Regions from separate parts of the Homo sapiens genome. Here region 1 is linked to region 2. The links come from fine-mapping of genetic effects on gene expression. A gene starts in region 2. The other region holds a variant in brackets. All regions are shown on one strand. Distances are between the middles of the regions.

The links. PIP is the estimated chance that this variant, and not a neighbour inherited with it, causes the effect.
Region 1: its variant is fine-mapped to the expression of GDF10 in whole blood (INTERVAL, PIP 0.93).

The regions. Positions count from the first base shown.
Region 1 is chr10:47,400,117-47,405,486 of GRCh38, reverse strand. No RefSeq gene overlaps it. Among named protein-coding and RNA genes, the nearest start is that of LINC03029, 12 kb to the left of the region's middle. The variant G/T (reference allele first, on the strand shown) is at 2,979.
Region 2 is chr10:47,298,184-47,303,553 of GRCh38, reverse strand. GDF10 (growth differentiation factor 10) reads right to left here and starts at 3,357. Exons shown (of 3, transcript NM_004962.5): 1 at 2,584-3,357. The coding sequence starts at 2,902.

The DNA of each region.
Region 1 (5,370 bases), 100 kb before region 2:
CATGCTCATTCATCGCTGTGACTTTGACTAGAGATATTTTTGTTTTCTCTGTCTCTGATCTGGTAAGCATAGTGGGAGGGAGGGTGTGGGGTTAGGGGCTGCTTAGCTGGTACCCTGGGTATAGCCTCGCTTTCCCTGAGCTCATGCCTGTCTCAGGGCACTTAGACTTTGGAGAGCTCATAAAGGCCCAGCATGAACCCTCCATGGTGAAATGGGAGCATCCCATAGATGTGTGACTACAAATCAGGCCCTTCCAATGGGACCAGCTTTCTTAACCCTAACCCCTAACCCTTAACCCCTAACCCCTAACCCTAACCCTAATCCAAAGGCATGCAACTGAGATTCAGGGACAGGCAATGGGACTGGCATTCCTAATCTTAACTCTAATCCTAATCCTAAACCTAACCCTAAGGGCTTCCCTTGTGTTGGGCAACGTATCCTTCAAAAGGCAGGGCTGAGTTCGGAAAAGGCATCCTGCTAAGCCCCCAGCCCTGCACCCAGCACCCACAACTCCAGACCCCTGACCCTGACTCAATCTCCTCCACTCTCTTTATCCTACCAAAGTAGCAAATCTGCTTAATAAGAGTGCTATGGCTCCTTGACTTCCTGTGCTCCCGAAACCAAAAGACCAAAGGCTGAAAGAAGCGGCCCCAAAGGGTGTGCAGGCAGCTGAGCACGGCAGGCTGGCTCGGGGATGTGGCCTGTCAGCCTCTGTTAAAGCAGACAGGACTGGTTGGGCCAGGCAGAGCTGGCTCTGATGGCAGGACTGGGACAGGCTAATCCAATGTGACAGGCTGAGCCAGCACAGCAAGGCTGGGCCAAGCATGGACCCTGAAGGCTGGCTTCGCACTGCAGGAAGAGAGTCCCTGCCATGTGGGGGAGCTCTGAGAGCCTCAGCCCAGGAGGGAAGGAGGCCAGGCCCTGCCCAGCCCCTGCTGCCCCTCTGGGCCACCACCCAGAGTCCTTCCCCGTGAACTTGCTTTCTTCGCCCTCATGCCCACCTAGGTCTCCCTCTCCCAAACCCACAGCACATTATGCACAAACTCAAGCCTTCCCCCAGCTCAGGGAGCAGAAGCCCCGTCCCAGCTCTTCCTCAAAGCTGTAAGTGGGGCCCAGGCCCCCATCCAGTCCTCAGGATCCTCGGCTCTCTTCTGTGCTTCACCCTCTTAGTGCCCAGTTCCAGGCATTTGCATCAGAAGTGTTCTTACCTCCTGCCAATCAGGAGCTCTGCAGTGCCTCCTGCTGGGCCTGGGCACCCCTCTAGGCCAACTCCAGCTGCCTGAGCTTGCTCCTCCTGCCTTCCTCCAGCTCCCCAGCCTGGCCTGGGGCTCAGGACCCCACCCATGGTCTCCCCTGTCTGAGACCCACCAGGGGACCAAGCTCTTCTGCACTAAACTCTCCAGCACTCCCCCTTACCCTGACCCTGTCTCCCTCCCATAGAGAAGGCCAGAGCAGAGAGGGGCACACAGAGAGCAGCAGCCAGCACAGGCAGGTGTTCACAGGACACACACACCTGCCCACCAGCCCCCGCACTCTGGGGAAGGAGGTAGGGCAGAGGGAGGACAGGGGACAGAGAAGGTCAGGGAGGCCAAGAAATTCGGGAGCACAGGGGCTACAGGTAACAGTGCAACCAGGGGTCAGAGGGTTCAGGGGAACAGGCATTGGGGTCAGGGTGGGTACTGTGAGATGCCCTGAGCAGCCTGCCCTGTGTGCTGTCAGGCTCCCAACCAAGGTCTCAGGGAGCCCCACAGCTCTCTGGAGCTCCCTCTGGCCCAGCCTCTCAGGCCTCCGTTGGGGGCTCAAAGCAGCACTCCCCTGCCTGGGGTGAATGTGAGCTGTGGGACGATGCTGCCCTCCGTGGAGTAGGTGATGAAAGACAGCTACATTCTCAGGCTGGGGAGGAAGCACATGGCCCTGAGAAGCCAGAGGCACTGGCTGCACTGGACCCAAGCATAGCCAGGGCGGTGAGGCCCACTCCCCACCTCCCACCCCAACTCTTCCATCTTGGGGCCCCTTGCTGGACACAGGGAAGTGAGATAAATGCAGTGGACTCTGAGGCCTGTGGAGACGAGGGATCCACAAAAGAAAGTCAGGATGGCAACTTGCTGCATCCCCACAATCCCAACACACCCCAAAGAAACTCAAACTCACACACACCACGTACACATACACACACATGCACGCACACACATGCGCAAACATGCATGCATACCACACACACAGTCACACATGGACACACACACACACCCCCCATGCTGAACAAGTAGGGAGATGCACACACAGCCCTCCCAGCTGGCCTCCCTTCTACTGGAAAATTCTTTGCCTCTTCACCCCATTCCCTCCTCCCCCTCCTCTCCCTCATTCCTCCTTCATCCCAGAGGAGTGACTCATCCTATTGGCAGCCATGCACACAGCCTTCCTTTCCTCTCCCTGACCCTCCTTCCTGCCGGCTGGCCCTCAGTGGCCCTCAGCGACAGTGCTGCCATACATCCCCAGCGGAGCTCCCCATGGATCCTGCCCTTGTTGCCCATTCATTTTACCCACAGTCATCAGACTTTTCTTCCTTAAGTGCCACCTTGATCATCCCACTCCTCTGCTCAAGAGCCTTCTCTGGCTGTCTATGGCTCACAGCAGGAAATCTCAGCTCCTTGGCCTGGCATAATGAGCCCCTGTGGCTTTGGCCTCAAACTGACCTTCCCAGCCCTCTCCCAGCCCTGCCTGAGCTAACCTCATTAGCTCAGCAAGCTAAGCCAAGCAAGACCACTCACTCCACCACAGGTCCCCTGTGGTGGGAAATATTTCAAGTTTTGCAGGGAAAATGTGAGGCTTGTGAATTAAGTGTTTTGTCTTTTCCATCCTGCAAGACCCAGTTCAAAGACCCACATCCCTGGAAGCCACTCTTGACTTTGTCGTTAGGAGTTCCTGCTTTTTCCTTTAACCTTCCATGTGAGTTCTTTGTCCCTTTCCTTGAACCCTCG[G/T]CAGTGCATAACCCAGGGTTCCGGGACTGAGTCACTGATTTACCTACCTAATGTCCCTTCCCAGCCTGCGATGTCCCCAAGGGCAAACTTGGGGCTCAAGTATTCCCAGGGCTCACAGGCAGGAGCCAGCCAAGGCTGCCGAGATCCAATGGAACCAGTGAGCGCTGGCCTCATTCCTGTTTCAGAATGCCACTTTGTGCTCTGTGTCCCCCACCGAGGAACTCCCACGCCCACCCAATCTGATGGGTTGTGCTTTCTACCTGCCAGAGGAAAAGCTTCCTGCAGTGCAGGGAAGGCTGCAGCCTCACTTTACTTATTTCTCTGCAATCTCTTCTGTATTGCAGAGCCATAAAGGTCAAGGCAGGAATCCAGGCTGCTGGGCCTGAAAACAAAGGAGACCTGTGTTAGGGAGTTGAGGCGCATCTGTCTGGTGGGCAGGTGTCTGTCCACTCCAGCCTCCTAGCAGTCTCTTAACAAGCTCCCCCGACCCCAGCAGAGCTTTGGCTGGGGTACACCCCCAGCAACCACAGTGGATCATCTGGGTGGTGACTTTCATTAGGGTGACCACCCAGACCTGTCTGTCTGGGACCAACAGGCTTTCAGGGATGAGGTACATTTTTTGCTAATAGTTGACTATTACCATAGTCAGCTGACTAGGAGGATAGCTGACTGGTTACCTTAGCTGGGGGCCGTGTAGATAAGAACTGTGGGAGGATGTCCCAGCTGAAAAGCCCTGAGCAATTCTGATATGCTGGCTCTCCTTGCTCCCACTTACCCGGGGGGTTTATCCATCCCCAACCATCTGTGATTGGATAGGGCAGAGCTCTTGGGAATCACGGTCCATCAGACGCCCCTTGAGAACAACAGACCCAGACCTGGTCCATCATTCCTCTGTTGGACTCTTGGATTCTTGGACATCAGACCGGACCCTTCGGTTGGGGATCCTTCTGGCAGCCTGTGTGTGACCTGCTAACCCTATTCATGACACCTCCAGATCCTGCTCACTGTCCCACATTTCCCAGCACCCACAGAGGGAGGTAGTGACATTCCCTGTGGGAGCCTGGGCCTCAGGCAAGGGAGGATGTGCACTTTGGGCCATTTTGCCTCCCATATTTCTTATAAGCTTGCAAAGCCAAGCCGCTCTGGGCATGGAGAGCCTTCTCCAGCAGACACCACTGGGGAGGGAAGAAGCACACCTGGCCACTGCTGTCCTGGCGTCATCATTTCCCCAGCATCAGGGAGAGCCACATGCCCTTATTGTCCTGACTTCCAGATCTTACTGCTAATATTCTCCCACTTAGTCCCCAGACACAGAGTAAGGAGCTTGAAGGGGGTTGGAGCCTTGTGAGACTTCCATCTAGGTGGGGATCAATCACATCTGCCCTACCCGCCCAAGACGCAAAGGTCTTTGCAATCCCACAGCTCCATCGGTAGGTACAGCTTGGCAGAAATGGGAAATATTTCAAGTTTTGCAGGGAAAATGTGAGGCCTGTGAATTAAGTGTTTTGTCCAAGGTCCTGGAGATGGTATCAGTTAAAACTAAGGCTGGTGCCCTCATCTGAGTCCTTTCTCTGTATCTGTGTTGCTTTATGGTCTTTTGTGTATTATGTACTCAGGGGAGCCTACCAGGAGGCTCTTCTCCCCTCCAGCAATGACCATGTCTATAAATGTTTGCCTCCTGAACATCATGCTTGTATGTGGTAGTTCTCATGCATCCAAGAGCAGCCTTCTCCCCTCCACTGTTCCACTGCCTCCTCTAGCCTGCATCTAAATCTGCATACTGTATTATTTTCATTTTACAGATGAAAAACTTGAGGCTCTGAACGGTCAAGCAATTTGTCACAATTTCCATAGCTGTGAGGCGCGTCTGTCTGGTAGGCAGATGTCTGTTCTTCCTCACCTACTCCACTGGGACTGGGGTCAGGGGGGCTACTGACCCCACCATGGAGGATCCAGGCAGGGCCCTTCATAAGCTCTCCAAAGCCTGAGTGCCCTGAGACAAGCATGAGCTCAGAGAAAGCCTGGCCATACCCAGGGTACCAGCTAAGCAGCCCCTAGCCCCACAGCCTCCCTCCCACTGTGCTCACCAAGTGTGGGATCTGCACTCACAGCTTGCTGAGGCCCACACCCAGAGGCAGATGCACCAACAGAGGCAGGTAGTGACATTCCCTTGTGGGAACCTGGTCCTCCCTTGCCTGAGGATCAAGCTCCACAGGGAATGTCACTGCCTGCCTCCATTGGGGCAAAAGTAACTACAGTTTCAGACTGTGAATTTTAAATCATTATAACTAGGCTCAAAGACATCTTTATTAATCAAAACGGAAACCATTACAATCAACACATTTTTGCCAATGAGAAACAAATTTGTTTATTCCTGCAGTGTAAAAATCCA
Region 2 (5,370 bases):
CAGGAATGGTGTAAGCACTTGACATATCTCAGTTTCCATTAAAAAAAATCCTATAAGGAGGGGAGCACTATTAGCTCCATTTTAGAAGTGAAAAAAACTGAGTCATGGACAAGTTCAGTCCCTTGCCCAGATCGCAGAATTGGGATTTGGACCCCACGAGGCCAGCTCACAGCCAGCACTTGGCAGCTGAGCTGCACTGCCCGGTGGCGGGGGAGGTATAGTTACGTATCGCAGGCTGTGGGGATGGAGGCATTTGTTGTTCAGGAAGAGGTGCTGCCCCACTGAGGCAGCAGAAACCCACCACTGGGGAGCAGGCTGAGACTGGCATGTTCTCGGACCAGAGCTGAAGCCTCCCACATGGGTGGCATCATCCATGAGAGAAGGGTCCCTGCCCAAACTCATACCTCCTCAGACAGGTCACTGGATCAGGAAGTAGGCACATCTGAGGGCAGGCAAGAGGCTTGGCATGAAACACTCAGATGAATCAAGGGAGGAGAGGATCAAGCAACCTGCCTGGGCCCCCACTGTATGCAAAGCACAAAACCTGCTTAGCCCATTTAATCCTCACTTCTTCACTGTACTACAAGGAAACTGATGCTCAGAGAGGTAAACTAACCTGTGCCACTGCACACACCTGGTAGCTGGTACAGCTGGGATTCACACCCAAATGTGCCTCAGGCTTCCAAAGAAGAGGGATTTGTCAGACACTCCAGACTACCAGAATCCTGATTTCCCAGGCTTGTCTGTTTCACCCTACCCCTCCCAGACCCTGGTCATAGCTCTGAGGGAGATGACAGGGTGTGGGGAGTGACAGTGAGAACAGCAATGACCTGGCAGATGGGAGTTGCCAACCCCTGCCACTGTGAACAACCACTGAGTCTCAGTTTCCTTATCTTTAAAGTGGGAGTGCTGGATTTGAGATACTGTCTTCAGGTCCTTTTTGAGATTAATAACCTGAACTCCACTGCTACTTGTACTACCCCCTTTCTGTGAAAACAGAATGACACAAGAAGGCATCTCCATGCCTGGCTGCAGCAAGTAGATGGGCTCAGTGGGCAGGCTCACCCGTGTCGCAGCAGTGACCCTGCTGGCCTTGCTTCCTCAACTACAAGGCTTTGAGGATTGAGTTAATAGAGAAGCAAGGTCAAGTTTAAACCCACAGGAATACACAATACTTAGCACGATTATTTGTGCTCCCAGGGGAATCCCGTACATCAACACTTAATCTGGCCAGTGCTGGGCTCTGAGCTTGCACATATGACCTCATTTCATCTTCCCTTCAACTGCACAGGGGAGATATTGGCAAGCCTTGCCCATTTTATCGATGAATACACTCAAGTCCACCTAGCTTTAGTGATTTACCCAAGGTCATGTTCATGCCAGATGATTCTTAAATGGTTTAATTTAATAACGTTCCTCAAGAAATGGACCCCACATGGTGCAAGAAAGTTATGAGTGAGGATGGAGTTAGATCCAATTGGCCTGGAGCCCAGGGCCACTGACCTGGTGAGTCTGCTAAGTGGAGGAGGAGGGCATGGGGCCTCTTTGTGGCAGGTGCTCCCCAATCCATGGTTATGAGAGGCCACAGATGTTACCTTGAGTCACACAGCCAGTGACAGATCTGACCCCAGGCTGTCTAGCTCCACAGCTAGGCTTGTTTCCCTCTCCCTCAGGAGGGGAGCCTGTAGACTGCAGATTTTTCTCCTGTTGAATGGCCTCATCTTCTGCAGAGCTGCAGGAGACCCCCACCCACATTTTCTGGAACATTATTCTGCAACCAGGAGTAATCACCATGACAACCAGGGTCTTCTCACCACCCCTGTGGCCCTGGCTGCACCTCCTCTCTACCCAGGGCCTGCAAAGGTGGGCAGGCTGCTGAGGCAGGAGCCTGGAAGTGCTCTCAGAACAGGGCAGCATGGGCCTTTGCAAGTGCCCTCTGCCCAGCTCCATCCAAGGGGCTGAGGAAGTGGAAAGGTGGGACAGAGGCCGGAGATAGGCAGAGTGTTCCCACTGCCTAAGCCCCTGGGCCTTTCCTTAAACCCCTGTGGTCTGAACGCTTCATGCCAGTCCGTGGAAGTCCTCAATCCCGGGCAGCCAAGGCCCTTCTCAGTCCACTCTGCTTCCCTGGACACAGGAACCATAGCTGACGCCAGCTAGGGGCTCCTGCTTCCTGACAGGGCCCAGTGCCTGGAGCTTCTGCAGGGCTGCCTATGTTCACTGGCTGTGCCCTTCTCATTTGTAAAATGCCCACATAATTGACCCTATGACAGGGATACTCCCCTGGCCTATGTCCCCTCTTCCACTCTCTGTGCTTACAGCCTTGTGTATGGGGTAGTCTGTGTATGTCCAGCAATGTGGGAGCACCCCAGGGGCAGGACCTCTGTGCCACCTGCTGCCACTCTTGGTGCCCCACTGGAGGTTCAGGGCCTGGCATGGAGAGATCAGTGAATCATTAGTGAAAGAATGAATGAACCACTCACCCGTTGGCTAGAAGAGGAAAAGTAGAGGTGCACGGGTGGGGAGACAGAAAAGTGAGGAAGGTGGAGAATGAGGAGAAGGGGTCCTGGGGCACCCTCTACTTACCCAGCCTGGCCCTGAAGCTGCGGACCGTGTTGCCCCCTCCCGGCCGCGCGCCCTGCCGGCTGTACTTCTCATAGAGCCTGTGCATGTGGACAGCGACCATGTCCTGGGCGCTGGGGCCCAACGTGGCGGCCGCGTCCCCAGGGTGCCGCTGGAGATCCCTGTCCCCCTGCAGGCCGTCGGCGGCCGCGGGCAGTGCGGACCAGGCGGGGGCCCTGTGGCTGCCGGCCACATCCCGGAGCAACAGCAGAAACAACGGCAGCAGCAGCAGCAGCAGCTGGGGCCCGGGTCCCGGGCTGGTCCGAGCGGGGACATGAGCCATGGCGTGGTGAGGGCGGCAAAGGGCCGAAGTCCAGGAGGAGGAAGGCGAGCGCTGGCGCACCGGAGGCTGCGGACTGACCTCGCGGCAGTAGGGCGCGCGGGGAGAGCCCGGGCAGCAGGGCGCTGGATACCGAGGTCCGCGCGGGGCGAGGGGCTTAGCGGAGCAGGCACCCGGGCGCGCGGTCCGTGGGTACCGGCGGCCCGAGCCCCCGGCCAGCGGTCACAGCCGTCCGGAGCAGCGCAGAGCCGAGCCGAGCCCGAGTCGGCGCGCTGCCTTGGCGGACTCGCGCCGCGAAAGTTTGTAGCCCACTGCGCGCCCGGCCCGGCTGCTTCGAGGGGCGGGGCGGGGCGGCCGGCTGCGCCCTCGAGGGGACCCGGCTGCGCGCCCCGGACCTCTGGGGCTGCAGCTGACAGGGTCGTCCCTGGCCCGGCTGCCGTGTGCGTGCGCCCGTGTGTGGCAGCGTGCGCGCGCCGGGGTGTGCGCCCGCGAGTGTGGGGGGCGTGGGCGAGCGCGCTCCCCGCTCCCCAGCCGAGAGCCCGAGACCCAGCCCCGCAGCCGGCTCCTGTGTGTCGGCGCCGCAGCCTGCCCTGGCTGCGAGGGGGGCTGGGCGGCAGTTGGAGGGGGGCCTGCCTGCTGGGTTGCCCCTGCAATGGCATGCGATGGCTATGTGATTGCAAGATGACAGCTCCCCTGTGAGGACCAGAGAGGGGATATGTGTGCGCCCAGTTGCCTCGGAGTCAGCGTATGTCCAAAATGTGAGAGTGTGGGGAACAGAGATCCTCTCTGGGCTGACTCCGTAAAGAAAAGCCCTCACCCCAAAGCTCATGCCACCCAAGGGAACTGGAACAAGATCGTGATTAAAACTCAGAATTAGCTCATTAACCAGCCCTTTATTTGACGAGAGTAATTTCAGTTGTTGAAGAAACACATCAAAGGTCCTTATTAATCTTTGGACATGTGGCCTTCAGGATTGCAGGAATAAGACATGCTTTCAATTTGCCTTTAAAAACATTTCCAAAGCATCAGAGCAGGAAGAGAGAAAGCAGTGGCTTTCCTAAGAAGGATTCCCAGTGAAGTGAGGGTGTAGTGAGTCCCTGGCCCACTGCCCCTCAGCTTAACCCTGGGGCAGAAGGTCCTGATCTTTGTCTTGCCTCTAGCAGGATTTCTTCTCCATTGATAGAATTCAAGGGCTCTTATGAACTTGATGGGGAAAAAAATACATCTTTATTTTCATTAACTCTAACTGAAACTTAGCATTAACTAATGTTATAAATGCAAGCAACCAACCACAGTGGTATTAGTGACTTTGTCACCAATAGGCACCATCCACAGATATTTTCATATCACATGAGAGTGGTTGCGGATTCATCAAAGTATCATGTTTGCTCATTACCACTTCAGTTAGGCCTACTGCTAGTTAGTTAGCAAAAAGGAACATAGTTACTATGTTACAAAATTGTTTTTAAATATTTGTGATAACTCTATTCTAACGTAATTGTCTTCCTTTGTAACTCTGCATATTTTATTTTATGCATTTAAAAACATTCTTTTAAGAAGGGGTCCACTGGCTTCCCTAGACTTAGAAGGGGGCCCAAGACCCACCTAAAAAGTTTAAGGACCCTTGAGAGGGAAGGAAAGGACCACGTCAAGCCCATGTTCTTCCAGAAAGCTCCCAGATACAGTCTATGCTACATTTCAAAGGACTATTTGCAAACTTGTGAACAGGCTGTTCCCTTTACTTGGTAACTTTGGGCTCTGTGAGCCAAAATAGTTACTTTTCTTGGAGGGCTCACAATGCAATAATTGAAAAATTGCTGGAAAAGGCTTCTGTTGGTGTGTAAAACATGACCCATTTGTAATTTTTTAAAATCTTGCAGTGTCAAATTAGAGGCCATCCTATTAAGAGCTTCTGAACCTCAGACTTGTAGCTTTTGGAAAACCAGAGAAAAGCATTTTATTTGTTTTGAAAATTAGATCACAGTGTGTTCAACTTCCCATTAGGATAGCTCCCATTTGTTCTGAACCAGTTTTCAAAAATGGTTTGCCTGGAAGTGAGATGATCGGGTCTCAGCCTGGGACTTAGTGAATCTCTCCTTATAAATGATCCAGACCATCTTTCAGTGGTCCCTTCCCCCACTCCCACCCCCATTTCCCTCCTTCTCCATGTGCCCCTCACTTCCCCTCTGTCCCCCTCTCCCCTTCCCCCCCAGAATGCCTCTGACCTGCACCGGCTGGGGGTAACCTCTGCTCATGGGTAGTTTTGTGTCTGTTGGGGCCATACACAATCGAGGCCTGTTGAAAAGGAGGGTGAGTCCGCAGGAGGCCCGCACAAGCTGGGCTATTTGGAATCCGTGTCCATTAAAGCCTTCTGGCTCTCCTTAACTCATTCCCGCTCCATTCAAGCCAGCCTGAGGGTCAGGCTTTAGCCAGCACTAAAACCTGTAGGGTACAGATTCTCTGACATTGTT